Homo sapiens: one gene and its partner. The protein of the gene in region 2 interacts with the protein of the main gene of each other region in a pairwise test. Each region holds a gene or a part of one and is shown on either strand. Other genes may lie near its edges.

Region 1 (7,516 bases), 9.2 Mb from region 2:
TTAATATTATTATATTACTATTATTAACATTAATAAATGTTTTGCATTTAATATCAAGGAGTTTTAGACCTTCCCCTATCAACTACTGCCTTACGTTCTTTTTGTAAGAGGAGTGCAAAAGTTCTTCTGACTGGATGATTGTCAAATAATTGAACCTGGTCTTAATGGGCAACATAAAATTCCCAAATTCTAGTTCCTCACAGAGAGGGAAAAAAAAAAAGATGTGAATTGTATGTCTGAATTATCAAAATTGCACTGCGGAGAAATAGCTTTTACAAAAGATTGGTTTAAAGCAGTCTATCATCCCTCTAAATTTTCCCTTTTCAGGCCATGAGAGCTTTACGCAATCATGTTTGTGGCCCTCTCAGAACAGTTTCCTCTGAATTTGGATGTCAGCCTTATGCCATCAACCCACAGTGAAGCATACTGTGGGGGGAGCTGTGCAGATTATTATTACCAGTTATGAAAATGTTGGACTTCTCTTCTGGATACTCACATACTTTACAAAACGCTTATTCAAACACACAAAAAAAATCTGTGCTTTTCTTAAGTCTATGATTTTTTTTTTTTTTTATCTTATGGGCACCATAAAACTTTTAGGTAAATGTTTTCTCCTCTGCTTTTCCCCCTCTGAAGCTCAGAGGTAACTTGGCTGCCTTCCTCTAGCAACTGGACTGGACAACTAGATTCATTAGTGAATCAATGTTTACAGCCCTCATTTTCCCTCTGCCCCGATTCTGTTTGTTACTTTTTGATGCATTTATACTATTTCAAACTGTTTTGGGACAAGCTGACACATTTCTAACTTTTTCTACATTTCAGTGCTGTTCATGACAACTGTTTGCTTAACGTATGTTCTCATGCCATAGAGCTTATTTTATAATTATCTTTCTTATCTGCAACTTTTAGGTACTGGACTCGAGTGTTTTGCAAACAGAAAATCATCACCCACAGTTTACCAGGTGTTATGTGTATGTAAGAGAGAGAAGGTAAGAATTGTTTGGGTTTAAGCAGATGTCACAGAAACAGAGTGTTGTAGTATTTTTTCTACACTTGTTGAGATCAAATGAGTCTGCAAGGGAAGGTAATGTCCAGCCCACAGTGGGAAGTCAACTTTGCCCTCTTCAGCTAAAATCTGCGTAGGAATCCAGATGAAAATTCATGGGAATCCAGGACAAGAAGAATGAGATGACTTGCCCAATAAAACATTATCTGTAAACACCAGATGTAGACTACAAATCCCTAATCTTTTCATCTCATTTGGGTACCCTGATCACGGACAGATTTTGGAAAATGTGTGTTAAGACACTAACTCAGATTTAGTCTTGACACATTTTAATATTTGGTATTAATATATCTTTTTGAAAAATGGTGAGACATTAAATTACAGTCAAATGTTCTGACAAATTTGGACAACCCATTAACTATTAGATACTTCAGCTTTAAAAAACAGTATAATTTAAGGAAATACATAGTACCTCATGATTCCTTAAGTATTTCCGGTGACTACAGAGTCTGTCATTGTTCCTCCTAGTCAACACGTAGTACAAACGTTTCAGAAACGGGCTGCAGTCTACAGATTTTAAGCTGAAGCTTGGGACTGTCTAAAACTCAGAAATCTCCTGAATGTAACAGCAATGCACATAGGTACAGTACTTAAAACTGCAAAGCCCTTTCAAATATATATTTTCAGTAAATCTTCTCGACCCCATTAGATATTATTTCAGTTTTACTGATAAATACAATGAAGCCTTGAATGGTAGTGATTTTCATCCACCCAATATTTGCTTAGGATCTGTTATGTGTTAGGCAGCATGCTGACTGAGGATGTAGGCAGGACTTAGCCCCTGAAAGACAGAAATCAAAGCGGATAGCAAAGTCTGGTCAGAGCCACACACAGGGTGCCATGACAGCAATGAGGAGAAACGTTCCCTGACATGGGTCAGGGGATATGGGAAAGCTTTGCCAAGCCAGATAAAGTAGCCAAGTAAAGGGGGAGTTTTAGGAGCACATGACAGGGTGTGGGAAGAGGAGACAAACTGAAGGACAGCATGCACACCAACACAAAAGAAACGATGTGGTGCACCTCAGGAATGGCATTTTCCATTGGTTCAAACTAGCTGAGCCTCTCCTAAGTGTTGGGCTTGTGCTGGGTGATGAGGATCCCACCATGAACCAGAGAAGCAAAGTCCTTGCCCTCAAGGAGTTTTAATTCTAAAGACAGAAATAGACAGTACAAACATAAATCAAGTAATGAAATGATTTCAGATAGTAGTGAGCACTATGAAGCAAGTAACACAGGCCAATGAGCTAGAGAAATGGGGAGAAACAGGTTTGGGAGGCAGCAATCAAAGAAGGCTTGCTCAGGAGAGGATGCCAGAGTGCAGGTCTGCAAGGGGGAAAACGCCAATCAAAGGTGAGGTAAGAGAAAGGGAATATTCAGGGTAAACTGCAAATGAAAGACCCGAACAGGTTAAAGCTTGCTGCACTCAATAAACAGAAAGGACGCCAGCATGGGTGGAGCACAGTAAAGGATGATGCAATGGGTGATTAGGCCCAGATTATTGACACTCTGTAGGCTATACTAATTCATTTGGATTTTATTCTGAGTGCAGTAAGAAGCCTTGGGGCTGGGTGCAGTGGCTCACGCTTATAACCCAGCACTTTGGGAAGCTCAGGCGGGTGGATCACTTGAGGTCAGGAGTTCGAGATCAGCCTGACCAACATGGTGAAACCCTGTTCCTACTAAAAATACAAAAATTAGCTGGGCCTGGTGGCATGCGCCTGTAATCCCAGCTACTCGGGAAGCTAAGGCAGGAGAATCACTTGAGCCCGGGAGGTGGAGGTTGCAGAGAGCCGAGATCCTGCCACTGTACTGCAGCTTGGGCGACAGAGTGAGACTCTGTCTCAATAAAAAAAAAAAGAGAAGCCTTGGAAGAGTCTGAAGGGAAGCAGTGGTGACACTGTTTCATTTACATTTCTAAAGGATAACTCCAGAAGCTCCCTGAATTACTGGTGTGAGTACTATCAGTTAGGAGGCTACTGCCAGAATCAGGGTGAGAGAGAAGTAGTCTGGATCAGGTGGTAGAAGTGCAGGAGGGAAACGGTTGGGTCTGAGATAAGATTCTGGGGGAAGAAATGACAGGACCTCCCAAATGACTGGATATGCGGATGTGGGTAAGGAAGGAATTATAAGTAACTCCTAGGAACTGGCAAACATAATGCTATGTCCTGATATGGAATCTTAGCAAGAGGGAGAATAAAGAGTTCTCTCTTGGAAACAAGATGTTTGTCAGATATCCAAGTGAAGACATCGCATAAGCAGCTAGGTATCTAAGACAGCAGCTCTGGGGAGAGGTCAAGATTAGTAATAAATGTAAGGGTCACTGGCCTATAGGTGGTATTAAGAGCTTGAGAATGGAATGGAAACTTCTAGGGAAGAGAATGCTGAGGGAGAAAACCCATGACAGAGCTCTAGGGGGCCCTCTGACTTAGAGGTTAGAAGAGGAAAAGCCATGAGATGGAGTGGAGGATGAGGTAGAGAGGAAACCAGAAGTTCCAGGTCACAGAAGCCAAGAGAGAGTCCAACTGTGCTGAATGATGCTCAGACACTGATTAGGTCACTGGTGAACTCAAGAGCAAGAAAGCAGTCTGGGGATGGAAGTGGTGTTGGAGAGGGTTAGGAAGAGAACTACGGTGGGGCGGGGTGAGGAACTGGAAAGAGTCACTGCAGACAACTCTTTCCAGAAGTGTTTGGGTGAAGGGAAGCAAACATACAGAGCAGTAAAAGAGAGGCATTAAAAAAAACTGAGGTTTTATTTAAAAAGGGGAAATAACAGGATGTTTTACGCTGATGGGAAAGATCCACTACAGAAAGAGGGTTCACAGAGGCCACACCCTTGAGCTGGCAAGTACACTACACTGACCTTTCTCATCTGTAACTGCACATTCTAGTTCCTTTGCTAGATCTATTTCCTGTGATCCTCAGATGCTGGCATCTTTCAGGGCCCCAAACCCAGCCTCCTGCTCCTCTCTCTCTCCACAGCCTCCCTGGTGGATCTTATCAACTCCCATCGTTTCAAATGCCTGCGGCACATCAACATCCAGATCTTTGTCTCCCATCTAAACTTGTCCTCAGCAGTGCAGACGATGAACATTTATTTCCAATGGATATTCCATGGGCACCGTGCATGACAGCCAGTCCCTTGCCCTCCCTGCCTCTCTCCTCTGCATGAGTGTTGAGCAAGAGAGGACTGCTTGATAAGGTTCTTTAGCACACCCCCCCCTTATTCACTACCAGCCTGACTTTACACACTACCAGCCCCTTGGCTAGGAGGGGCTACCAGCCCAGTAAATAACAAGCCCCGTTGGCTGGTAAGTGGCAAAACCAGTCTATCGATCCAGGTATGTTTGACCCCTAAATCCATGCTTCTACACATTTCCCCTAAAGAAAGTTCCTGCAGTTACTTTATTTTCAACATGTATCATAAAATCCTTATTTCAATTAGTACATAGCTATTCACATTTAAGTCAGCAAGGTAAGTATCACTTTATGATAATAAATATTCGTATGAGAAAAAAGTCTAGCAAAGTGGTTTATTCTTTCAACTTATTGCTGGAAGAAGTCCTTTAAACAAACCAGTGCAGAGAAAATGCCTATCAAAAGTATCAGTTTTTCAGCTTTCTTCACCACTGCTTTAGATGTATCATTTTTATAATTTTATCTCTTCATGTTTTTAAAGAGCTGCTACTTCAGATGACAGTAACTCTTTGGTGTTTATTTTTATTTCCAAGATAGTGATTTTTTTAAGAGGCTACTTTAAGGCTGTGAATTGTCTCACTGTCTTTTCACTCTCTCTTTTTAGTTCTTCAATATGGGCATCCAAGCGCTCTAGAATGTGATGAGACCTCAGTTCCTCCTCTTCCAAAAATCTGGTAGCTATTGAACCAAGGGGAGATACAGGCAAGGAACACTGGAAGAGACACAAATTTTGACATGTGTAAATAAGTAGAATATTATATTTCTAAGATACACTGTTCATGACATTTTCTAACTAGCAATATTAAAAGGTGATTTTTTTCCTCTGAAGATACTTTTTTGGTTTTCATCCTAATGACAAGAGCAATAAAAGAACAAAAATCAGTAAGTTCTGCAAAAATTAACACAGATCTCTCCGTTTCTGACCCAAATTGTAACAATGTAAAGTATCATATATTAGTTATTGGTCTGAAGAATGTTTCAATTTAGACTTATATATGCTTCCATAGTTAATGCCTATTATTTCAAACTCACTTTAAAAACCTAAGTATGTCACTTTTATTTTAAAGCACAAAAATTTAACAAAAATAAATTAGATGCCAGCTAAAATCAATTATTTTTTCTCCTCCAAATTTTCAGTCCACAGTCCCTTATCTGAAACCCTTGAGGCTAGTGATATTTCAGAATTCTGATTTTAGAAAGGTAACATAGAACATATGCCATATGCAGTCAATACTCATTCACAATAGCAGTAGTTGTGTTCTATAAAGTCACCCAAAACACTGAATTAGCAAACACAGAATTTTTGGCCCAGGGAAAATACACACATACAACAAATACACACACACACACATACACACATACCCCACACAGAGAGCATAATCCTAAATCCTAGAACAAATCATTCTGGTAGATTCTGTATTTTTTATTTCACATGAGAGACATGAGGTTCAGAAGTGGTAACTCTCCTGAGGCTGCCCCACTAACTGGTGCTGAAGCTGGGATTCAGACTCTATCCAGCTGGCATGGAGCTGAGCTTCTTTCCCTACACTGCGCTGTCCCGTCCATCTCCACCCTATGGTCACCTCCGCATAAGCAGGGGCAACAAGGCAGAGTGCTGCCTACTTCGACCTTGGCTGGGATTGTGCAAGTCGGTCACTCAAATTTTTTGTCACTCTGCATATGTCCACGAATTACTGTGGAAGTGCTGCGCATACTGATTTGGGAGTTACAGATAAAGTTTAGGGAGTAGACAAATTCACAAATACAAAATCTGTGAATAATGAGGATCAACTGTATTACCCCAGTGGAGTCTGAGGGAACATCCCATCACCAAACACACTGATATTTCTGAAGCAAAACACATGGATACTCACACTAAGTGGAATAGAGAAAGTCTATACATACTAACACATCAGTTCAGGCCAGGGAAAGTTCTGGTGCCAAAAAAATTTTGCTGCTAAACTTAGGAAGAAAGTGAAGTGAGGACTTATTTTGAAAAATAAAAGAAAACCTTTCCATGGACTTGGTAGCACATTAATAAGTCAGAAATACTGCACTTTCACATCTATATGGCCACAGCTGGTGACAGGAAATGAAGGGCCCATGGCAAGTGCTTTGGTGCAGAAGGCAAAAAGATGGTGCAGCCTGCCCAGCAATGGAAGGAGCAAGGGACCGGCATGGTGTCCAAGGCACATTCTGCCCTGAGGGCCACCATCTGTGACCCCCAAGCCATGCTCTGCACACATCAGAGGCACAGCCTTCCTCCCCCTCCACACTCCCTTTCTCCTTTCCAGCAGTTCCTCTTTTCCTCCTTCACTGCCTGTGCCTCAGGACTATCTTGGCATCCAGAGACAGTTCTTGAACTAACCATTCCAGAAGAAAATTGAGCATCACTGAAAAGGGCAAGAAGGGAATTTCCAATAAGGGTTAAAGACAAATGAATACGTATAACATATTTCAGAACATTTTGAAAAGTAGTCTTGGCCGAAAGTGTCTTCACAAGCAAAAACTGTATGACAGGGATACCTAAGAATAATGAAGAGTACTTATGATAAAAGAATCAGTAAGGAAAAAAAAATCACCTTCTTCACCCTTAAAATAAAAAATCAAAGCAAACTTAAAAAACTAACAAATTACTAAGATCAGAAAGTTTCCATACCGAAGATATAAACTCTTCTTGGTCATTCATACTCTCAGACATAGTGTCAGAAAAATTGGCTTCATTTGTATCTAGCGCTGAAGGCAAAGAATGAGTTTTACATAGAGAGTAGGAAGTCAAAGACCTGGTGGAGCTGCAAGGGCTGATTTGAGGACTCAGGGGGCTTAGCACCCTAGACATGGGGTTTATACTATCCGACGCTTGTCCTCTTGGAGAATGAAGATCTGTTTTGTAGTGCTCAGTCTTTATTCCATCATGTCTGTGCTGGCCATGGGTTGGCCTGGATGGTAGATTAGAAAACAAAACAAATAAAAAATTGTAGCAACTTTTCTCTTTCCAACAGAAATGTAGGAAATTTGCTTAATAGCCTAACTAATAAGGCTACAATTTACAAAATGAGCAACCTACTCAGATCAGAAAGAGATTTCTTTCATTCATTCAGGCCCCAAATATCCAATTCCAACTACCAAGTCCCTGCCCTCACACACTTATGGTATAGCAAGAAAGACAAACAAGCTGCCAGAGTAATCTAGTGTGGTTAGTGCTGGGACAGGAGAAGTGCTGTGCACATAAGAAGGCACCTAACCTAACTAGGG
Region 2 (8,041 bases):
TGGTTGGTTTTCAGGAATATTTTTGAAGAGGTCATTTGTTTTTCATTTGGAGTATTTCCACTTTGTCTTCACTTTACTACTTCTGTATCAAGGTGTGCTCTCTTCCTGTTCCAAGTCTCTCACTCTAGTACTTTATGCCTTTTTTCCAAAATATTATCTGTCCCCAGAGTACTACTACTTCCTCAATATTTATTGTTTTGGCTTGATGCTAGGCATAAGATTAATTTAAAAAAATCACATCGAGCTAAAAATCTTCTGCACAGGAAAGGATACAGTCAATAAAGTGAAGAGACAACCCACAGAATGGGGGAAAATATTTGCAAACTACCCATCTGACAAGGGATTAATAACCAGAATATATACGGAGCTCAAACAACTCTATAGGAAAAAAAATCTAGTAATTCAATCAAAAAATGGGCAAAAGATTTCAATAGACATTTCTCAAAAGAAGAGATATAAATGGCAGACAGGCATATGAAAAGGTGCTCAACATTGTTGATCATCAGAAAAATGGAGATCAAAACTGCAATGAGATGTCATCTCACTCCAGTTAAAATGGCTTATATCCAAAAGACAGGCAATTACCAATGCTGGTGAGGATGTGGAGAAAAGGGAACCCTTCTATGCTGTTGGTGGGAATGTAAATTAGTACAACCACTGTGGAGAAAAGTTTGGTGGTTCCTCAAAAAACTAAAAATTGAGCTAGCATACAATCTAGCAATCGCACTGCTGGGTATATTTCCCCTAAAAAGGAAATCAGTATATTAAAAGATAGTTGCACTCCTGTATTTGTTGCAGCACTGTTTACAATAGCTAAGACTTGGAAGCCACCTAAGTGTCTGTGAACAGATGAGTGGATAAAGAAAATGTACATATGCACAATGGAGTAGTATTCAGCCATAAAGAAAGAATGAGATCCAGTCATTTGCAACAACACGGGTGAAACTGGAGATCATTATGTTAAATGAAATAAGCCAGGCACAGAAAGACAAATGCATGTTCTCATTTATTTGTGGGATCTAAAAATCAAAACAGTTGAACTCATGGATATAGAGAGTAAAAGGGGATAGTTACTAGAGGCTGAGAAGGGGAAGGTGGGGATAGTTAATGGGCACACACAAAAAAATAGAAAAAATGAATAAGACCTACTATTTGATAGCACAATAGGATGACTATAGTCAATAACAACTTGATTGTGCATTTAAAAATAAAGAGTGTAATTGGGTTGTTTGTAGCTCAAAGGGTAAATTATTGAGGGGATGGATACCCCATTCTCCATGATTTGCTTATTTCACGTTGCGTGCTTGTATCAAAATATCTCATGTACCCCATAAATGTATATACTTATGTATATATTTACTCCCTCCATTTTTTTTTTTTTTTTTGAGATGGAGTCCTGCTCTGTCACCAGGTTGGAGTGCAGTGGCTCGATCTCGGCTCACTGCACCCTTCCCCTCCTGGGTTCAAATGATTGTCCTGCCTCAGCCTCCTGAGTAGCTGGGACTACAGGCATGCACCATCATGCCCAGCTAATTTTTTTGTATTTTTAGTAGAGACAGGGTTTCACCATGTTGGCCAGGATGGTCTCGATCTCCTGACCTGCTGATCTGCCCGCCTCGGCCTCCCAAAGTGTTGGGATGACAGACGTGAGCCACTGCACCCGGCCAATGTTTTATATATTTAAAACATAAAAATATAGTTATTTTATATATTTAATGGTTGTTTCTAAGTTTTCTTTAGTGATTTGTCTGATAGTGTTCCTGTCAGTTTATTGATCTCTTCTAATTTTTAAGGTATTTTAATATATTAAGGATATGGAGTTTTTGACTGATGTTACAAATACTTTTCACCAGTTGATTCTTAAGGATTTCCAAATAAATGGACAGAATAATGAAATTTTAGCATTAAGAGACTTGTTTCATTTAGTTTTAGTTTGTTTTCTAAGAAATGTGATAAATGAAATTTTTGAAGAGAGCAGCTATTTGGTGATGTATGTAACATCTTTGACCTTTATTTTTATTTGTTTATTTTTGAGACAGGGTCTTATTCTGTCACCTAGGTGGAGTGCAGTAGTACAGTCACAGCTCACTGCAGCCCCAACATCCTGGGCTCAAGCCATCCTCCTGCCTCAGCCTCCCAAGTAGCTGGGACCACAGGTGCGTGCCACCATGCCCAGCTCATTATTGTATTTTTATTTTGTAGAGATGGGGTTTTGCCTTGTTGCCCTAGCTGGTCTCAAACCCCTGGGCTCAAGCGATACGCCCGCCTCGGCCTCCTAGAGTGTTGGAATTACAGGCGTGAGCTACCATACCCAGCAATCTTTGACCTTTAGATTTTAACTTTACTACCTAAAGATTTTGAAAAGTGAAATCAGATGTTTTGTACAGATATACTGTATATATTCTAGGTTGATAATACCTGGTACCAGGGAAGAAAGATTAGCAAGTTATGAATTACACATTTGTGTATTTTGCTGTTTATAAGGTTTTTTTGAGCTGTTCATTTCAGTAAAGTTTTCTCTGTTAATGATAACCTTAGTAAAGGAAAGAGTATTTTGATTTCAGTAGTGTGTTGGAATTTAACTTAGGTATTTGACTGCTGAAAACTATGATCAAAGTTGGTCATTACTTAGGTGATTAATTTGGGAAAGAAGTGACTAAACTGAAATATACTTAACATTTTCGTTATGGTATTGACTACTGTAGTGATTTTCTGTGTCTACCTTTGTTTACATTTTTTATTTCATCAAGATAAATTCCAAAATGTAGAATTCCTTGTTCAAAGAATATGTACATTTTTATAGCTTTTGATACGTTTCATAGCATTTGATACCAAATGGCTTTTGAAAATAGTTGATCTAATACATACTTTTATTATCAGTAGATGAGTGTCTTTTTTTAATACTTCAACATTGGATGTATTTTTTAAGAGTCATTATCAGTTTGGTAGATGAAATATGATAGTGCTGTTTAATGGTAATTTCTTGGATTACTGCTGAGACTCTTTTTTATATGCTTAATGACTATTTCTAAATTTTTAAAAATGATTTGCTTGATGATGTTCTGTCAGTTTATTCCTTACTGAATTCATCTCTATTTTTAACACATTTCAATATATTATTAATATATTAAAGAATATGGATCCCTTGACTGATGTTACAAATACTTTTCCCTAATTTGTTTTTATGTCAGGCTTATTTTTCAATAATAAAGTAGTTAGGATTTGATGCCTTTATATGAAAATGAAAATTTGTGTTTTATTCTACCAGCCTTTGGAAACCGATATTGGTATTATAATTTTAAAATTGGAGGCAGTTCCAAAGTACATCAATAAAATCTTTGTATTTGAATGTTCAAATTCTTAATTTGAAAATTTAAAATGAAGTAGTCATATAAAACTAATTTACTATGTTTTGTTGCCAAACTTGGTTTTCTAGGCAGTTATACTTAAGCATGAACATTGACGACAAACTGGAAGGATTGTTTCTTAAATGTGGCGGCATAGACGAAATGCAGTCTTCCAGGACAATGGTTGTAATGGGTGGAGTGTCTGGCCAGTCTACTGTGTCTGGAGAGCTACAGGATTCAGTACTTCAAGATCGAAGTATGCCTCACCAGGAGATCCTTGCTGCAGATGAAGTGTTACAAGAAAGTGAAATGAGACAACAGGATATGATATCACATGATGAACTCATGGTCCATGAGGAGACAGTGAAAAATGATGAAGAGCAGATGGAAACACATGAAAGACTTCCTCAAGGACTACAGTATGCACTTAATGTCCCTGTAAGTAATTCCTTTATAAGATATTAAACTTAGAAACATAATTTTTTGTTACGTAATACTGCAAGTCATCGAAGAAATTTCAGAAAATGTTTCAGGGCTAAATAGTGTTCTTGAATAGATATACTAAAATATTGACATAAATCATATTTGAAAGGCAAAATTAAGTTCTTGTATTATATTATTTTAGAAGCTTATTTCTTTCAGGATAACAATATTTCTCAGGATTATTTTGGTATTAAATTTTAAATGCTTAATTTTAAAAGATATTTTATCTAACTTCTAGGTTTCTCCTTAAAGAGTAAAACATTTGAATCTTCAACGTAACTAGAAAAATATCACACATTCAAGGGTTTTTCCTACAAATTCTGTAATTCTTGCCTTCTTAAATTTTTCTAATATGCTCCTATTCTCTGTTCTCTTTGTATCCTCCGCTTGCTTGATCTGTTTATCTTTTTAAAGTATATCAGCCCTTTACTCTTTCCTATCTACCTCAGACGTCATTTAAGATGTTTCATAAGCACCCATATGTTTTTCCTTCTTCTACCTTTATTTTTACCCAATAATCAGTGAAACCACAACCATCATGTAAATTCTTGTCTCTTCTTTCTATGATATCAAACCTGGGTTCCTTTCAGTTCATCTAACATGTACTTTTTCTTTTGCTTTAGGACTTTAATATATCCTGCTTGAGATATTACCCTCAGTCATACTTCATACCTGTTTTATAACCTCTAGATAGTGCTCCATCATCATCAGCCTGTCACTTCTCTTGACTCTAGGTTGAGTCCCTGTGATAGGGACTTGTGATTTACTTGTACGATGCTTCTCTGATGGATTGTAGACTCCATAAGGACAGGAGTTTTGTCTTACTTTTCACTGTAGTCCAGGTGTTGGCACATGGTGTGAATGAGCGGATAACTACTTGTAGTTGTGCTCTGATACATACATTCACCAGCTTTACCTAGCCCATTGCAGTAACTTTTTCCTCTTTAGCCTGATGATGTAATGGATTACATTAGTTGATTTTTGAATATGGAAGCAACTTTCATACCTGGAATAAATCCTGCTTGTTTGTGGTATATAGTTCTTTTTAGATGTGGTTGGATTTGATTTGATCATATTTTGAGGATTTTTACATTTGTGTTCATGAGAAATATTAGTCTATAGTTTTCTTGATGTCTTTGTCTGTTTTTGGTATTAGGGTAATGCTGGTCTCATAGAATAAATTAGCAAGTATTCCCTCTGCTTATATCTTCTGGAAGAGATTGTAGAGAACTGATGTAATTTCTTCCTTAAATGTTTGGTAGAATTCACCAGTGAACTGCTTTGGGTCTGGTGCTTTCTGTTTTGGAAAGTTATTGTTGATTTGATTTCTCCTATAAATATAGGTCTCTTCAGATTATCTGATTCTTCTTGTGTGAGTTTTGACAGATTGTGTCTTCCAAGGAATTGGTCTATTTTGATAAAGTTGTCAAATTTGTGGGAACAAAGTTCATAGTATTGTTTTATTATCCTTTTAATGTCCAGGGGTTTATAGTGATGTCCTCTCTTTGATTTCTGATATTAGTAATTTGTGTTTTCTCTTTTTTTCTTTTTTTCTTGTCTTAAGACAGTAATTTAAAAAAATTACTGTCTTAACAATTCCCTTTTTTTTGGTGTATCATTTACTAAGTTAAATTATATAGGGTTTTTTGGGGTCTGTAATTGATGTACATTTGATTTTAAAAAGACACTGTCTTATATCAGGACAAAGCAGATTTACATACAACTATCAGCAGAAAAAATTTCTGTGTGATCTGAACAGAGGTACTCTTTTCTTTGATCATAAGAAAATGCAGTACTTTTAGAAGGTAAAGCTATTAAGATTACAGAAGTTTTACCAAAATGCTTTAAGCAAAAACTCTTTTAAGAAAAAGGTATGAGTTCTCATTTTCTATTCTTAGCATAAATTTTAATACTTTCTAATAGAACCTAACTCTTCTGAATGCCTTTCAGCATCATCCAAAGCTTGAACTTCTATTTCTGGATTAAAAATTCATTCACAAATGAGCTGTGCAATACGATCACTTTTTCTGACTTTAAACTTTTTTTTGCCAAAATTAAACAGTACAGCACCAACATTTCCTCAGTAATCTTCATCTATCAATAAAGTGTTTTGCAGCTAATCCAAACCATGGAGCTACTCTTCTGTAACATCCAGAAGGAAGAGCTATCTGAATGTCCATTTTCCCTAGAGCTTTCTCCATAGGTGGTATTGTATCATCATAGGCACCGTTGAGGTCATAGCCTGTGGCCTGTGTGGATCCCTGAGTCAGGGTTGTGGCCTGCTCAGAGAATGGGGCAAAACGGAGCTGCATGCTGCCTTCCTCTGCAAACCAGCCTGTTTGCTGGGGGTAACGGTGGGTGTCTCTTCAGAGCAGGGCATGGCAGAGTGAAAATGCGAGCAGAGGAGAGAGCAACAATTTTTAAGTGTCCATTTTAGTAGTGCAAACTATATTGACATTGTTGTACAACAGATCTCTAGAACTTTTTCATCTTGCAAAACTGAAACTGAAACTCATGTTCGAACAACTCTGCATTTCCCCCTGCCCAGTGGTAGAGGCTTGCTTATTTTATTGATATTTTCAAAGAAACAGCTTTTGATTTTCTTGATTTTTTTCCCTCTATTTCCTATTTTCAGTTTCATTTATTTCTGCTCTAATTTTTATAATTTTTTTCTGCTTGTTTCGGATTTAATTTGCTCTTCTTTTTCTACTTTCCTAAAGTGGAAGCGTATTCATTTTAGATTTTTTGTTTCTAATATATGCATTCATACTATAAATTTTCCTCTAAGCACTGCATTAGCTACATTGCATAGATTTTGATAGTTGTATTTTTATTTTCATTTAGTTCAATATATTTTAAAATTTCTGTTAAGATTTCTTCTTTGGACTGGGTGTGGTGCCTCACGCCTATAATCTCAGCACTTTGGGAGGCTAAAGTGGCGGATTACTTGAGCTCAGGAGTTTGAGACTAGCTTGGGCAACATGACAAAACCCCATCTCTACTAAAAATACAAAAATTAGCCGGGCATGGTGGCATGCACCTGTAATCCCAGCTATGTGGGAGGCTGAGGCATAAGAATCACTTGAACTCCAGAGGCAGAGGTTGCAGTGAGCCAAGATTGTGCCACTGCACTCCAGCCTGGGTGACAGAGTGAAACTCTGTCTTTAAAAAAAAAAAAAAAAAAAAAAATTCTTTGAACCATTATTGTTTAGAAGTGTGTTGTTTAATATCCAAGTATTTTGAGATATTTTCTAGCTACCATTCTGTTATTAGTTGTAGTTTAATTCTGTTGTGGTCTTAGAGCAGACGCCATATGATTGCTATTCTCTTAAGTTTGTTAGATTGTATTTTATGGCCCAGAATGTTGTCCACCTTGGTGAAATGTTACGTGCGAGCTTGAAAAGAATGTGCATTCTGTTTTTGTTGGATGAGGTAGTCTATAGATTGCAATAGACTGGCATTTTTATTGGACTGACAGTAGCCTGCGCCTTCTCCAGTGTATCTTTCAGATAGTTTCTACAGTGATCTTTCCAAACGAGATGTATACATGTCATTCCCTTACTGAAACTTCCCCAGTGGTTCCTCATTACTAAACAGCTAAAATGTACTTTTTTGCATGGGCGGAAATAGCCGTCATAATCCCGTCCCTTATCCAACTTTTTTTTTTAACTGTAGTTCAGCCCCTTTCGCCACCATTTTATGCTTTAAGCATATCAAATTAATTTAGTTGCCTAGGTCCACTATGGGTTTTTTCTGTTACTTTTGTTCATGTCGTATATGCCTATAATATTATTTATTTGGCAATTTACTGTTACTCATGTTTCACCTTAAAAGATGTCTCTTTCTTGTGATTTTTCATTATGGTAACTATAATAACTTTGCATTTCTTTGCTTGCAAGACTGTCTTGTCATTATATTTTAAGGTATTTTTTTCTGTATCCTGCCTTTAAATTTTGTGTTCTCAATACCTGGGTTATAGTAGGCAATCAGATTTTTTTTGAGTGAAAATATACATTCTGTTTTTAATTGAGGAAAAGTTTAAAGTGAAATGTTCAGATTCTGAGTTTGTAGTTCAGAGTTTTGACAACTGCATAAACTTGTATAATCCATAATCCATCAAGATACCAAATGTTTTAGTAATCCTGGGAAGTTTTTTTGTAATTCTTCCCAGTCAATTCCTCCACAACAGTTGTTCTGATATTTTTTCTTCA

Evidence for each region. Proteins that work in one complex are often made in the same cells at the same time.
Region 1: the proteins of ZNF148 (region 2) and CEP63 interact in binary tests that used the Homo sapiens proteins (3 or more experiments, as listed by UniProt).

The regions. Positions count from the first base shown.
Region 1 is NC_000003.12:134,558,834-134,566,349, reverse strand, and holds the end of CEP63 (centrosomal protein of 63 kDa), read right to left. Parts: intron 7,201-7,516; coding exon 6,921-7,200; intron 4,974-6,920; coding exon 4,815-4,973; 3' UTR 1,319-4,814; downstream 1-1,318. UniProt on the Homo sapiens protein: Required for normal spindle assembly.
Region 2 is NC_000003.12:125,309,052-125,317,092, reverse strand, and holds part of ZNF148 (zinc finger protein 148), read left to right. Parts: intron 1-2,039; exon of another isoform or gene 2,040-2,156; intron 2,157-3,436; 5' UTR 3,437-3,452; coding exon 3,453-3,785; intron 3,786-5,595; exon of another isoform or gene 5,596-6,230; intron 6,231-8,041. UniProt on the Homo sapiens protein: Involved in transcriptional regulation. Represses the transcription of a number of genes including gastrin, stromelysin and enolase. Binds to the G-rich box in the enhancer region of these genes.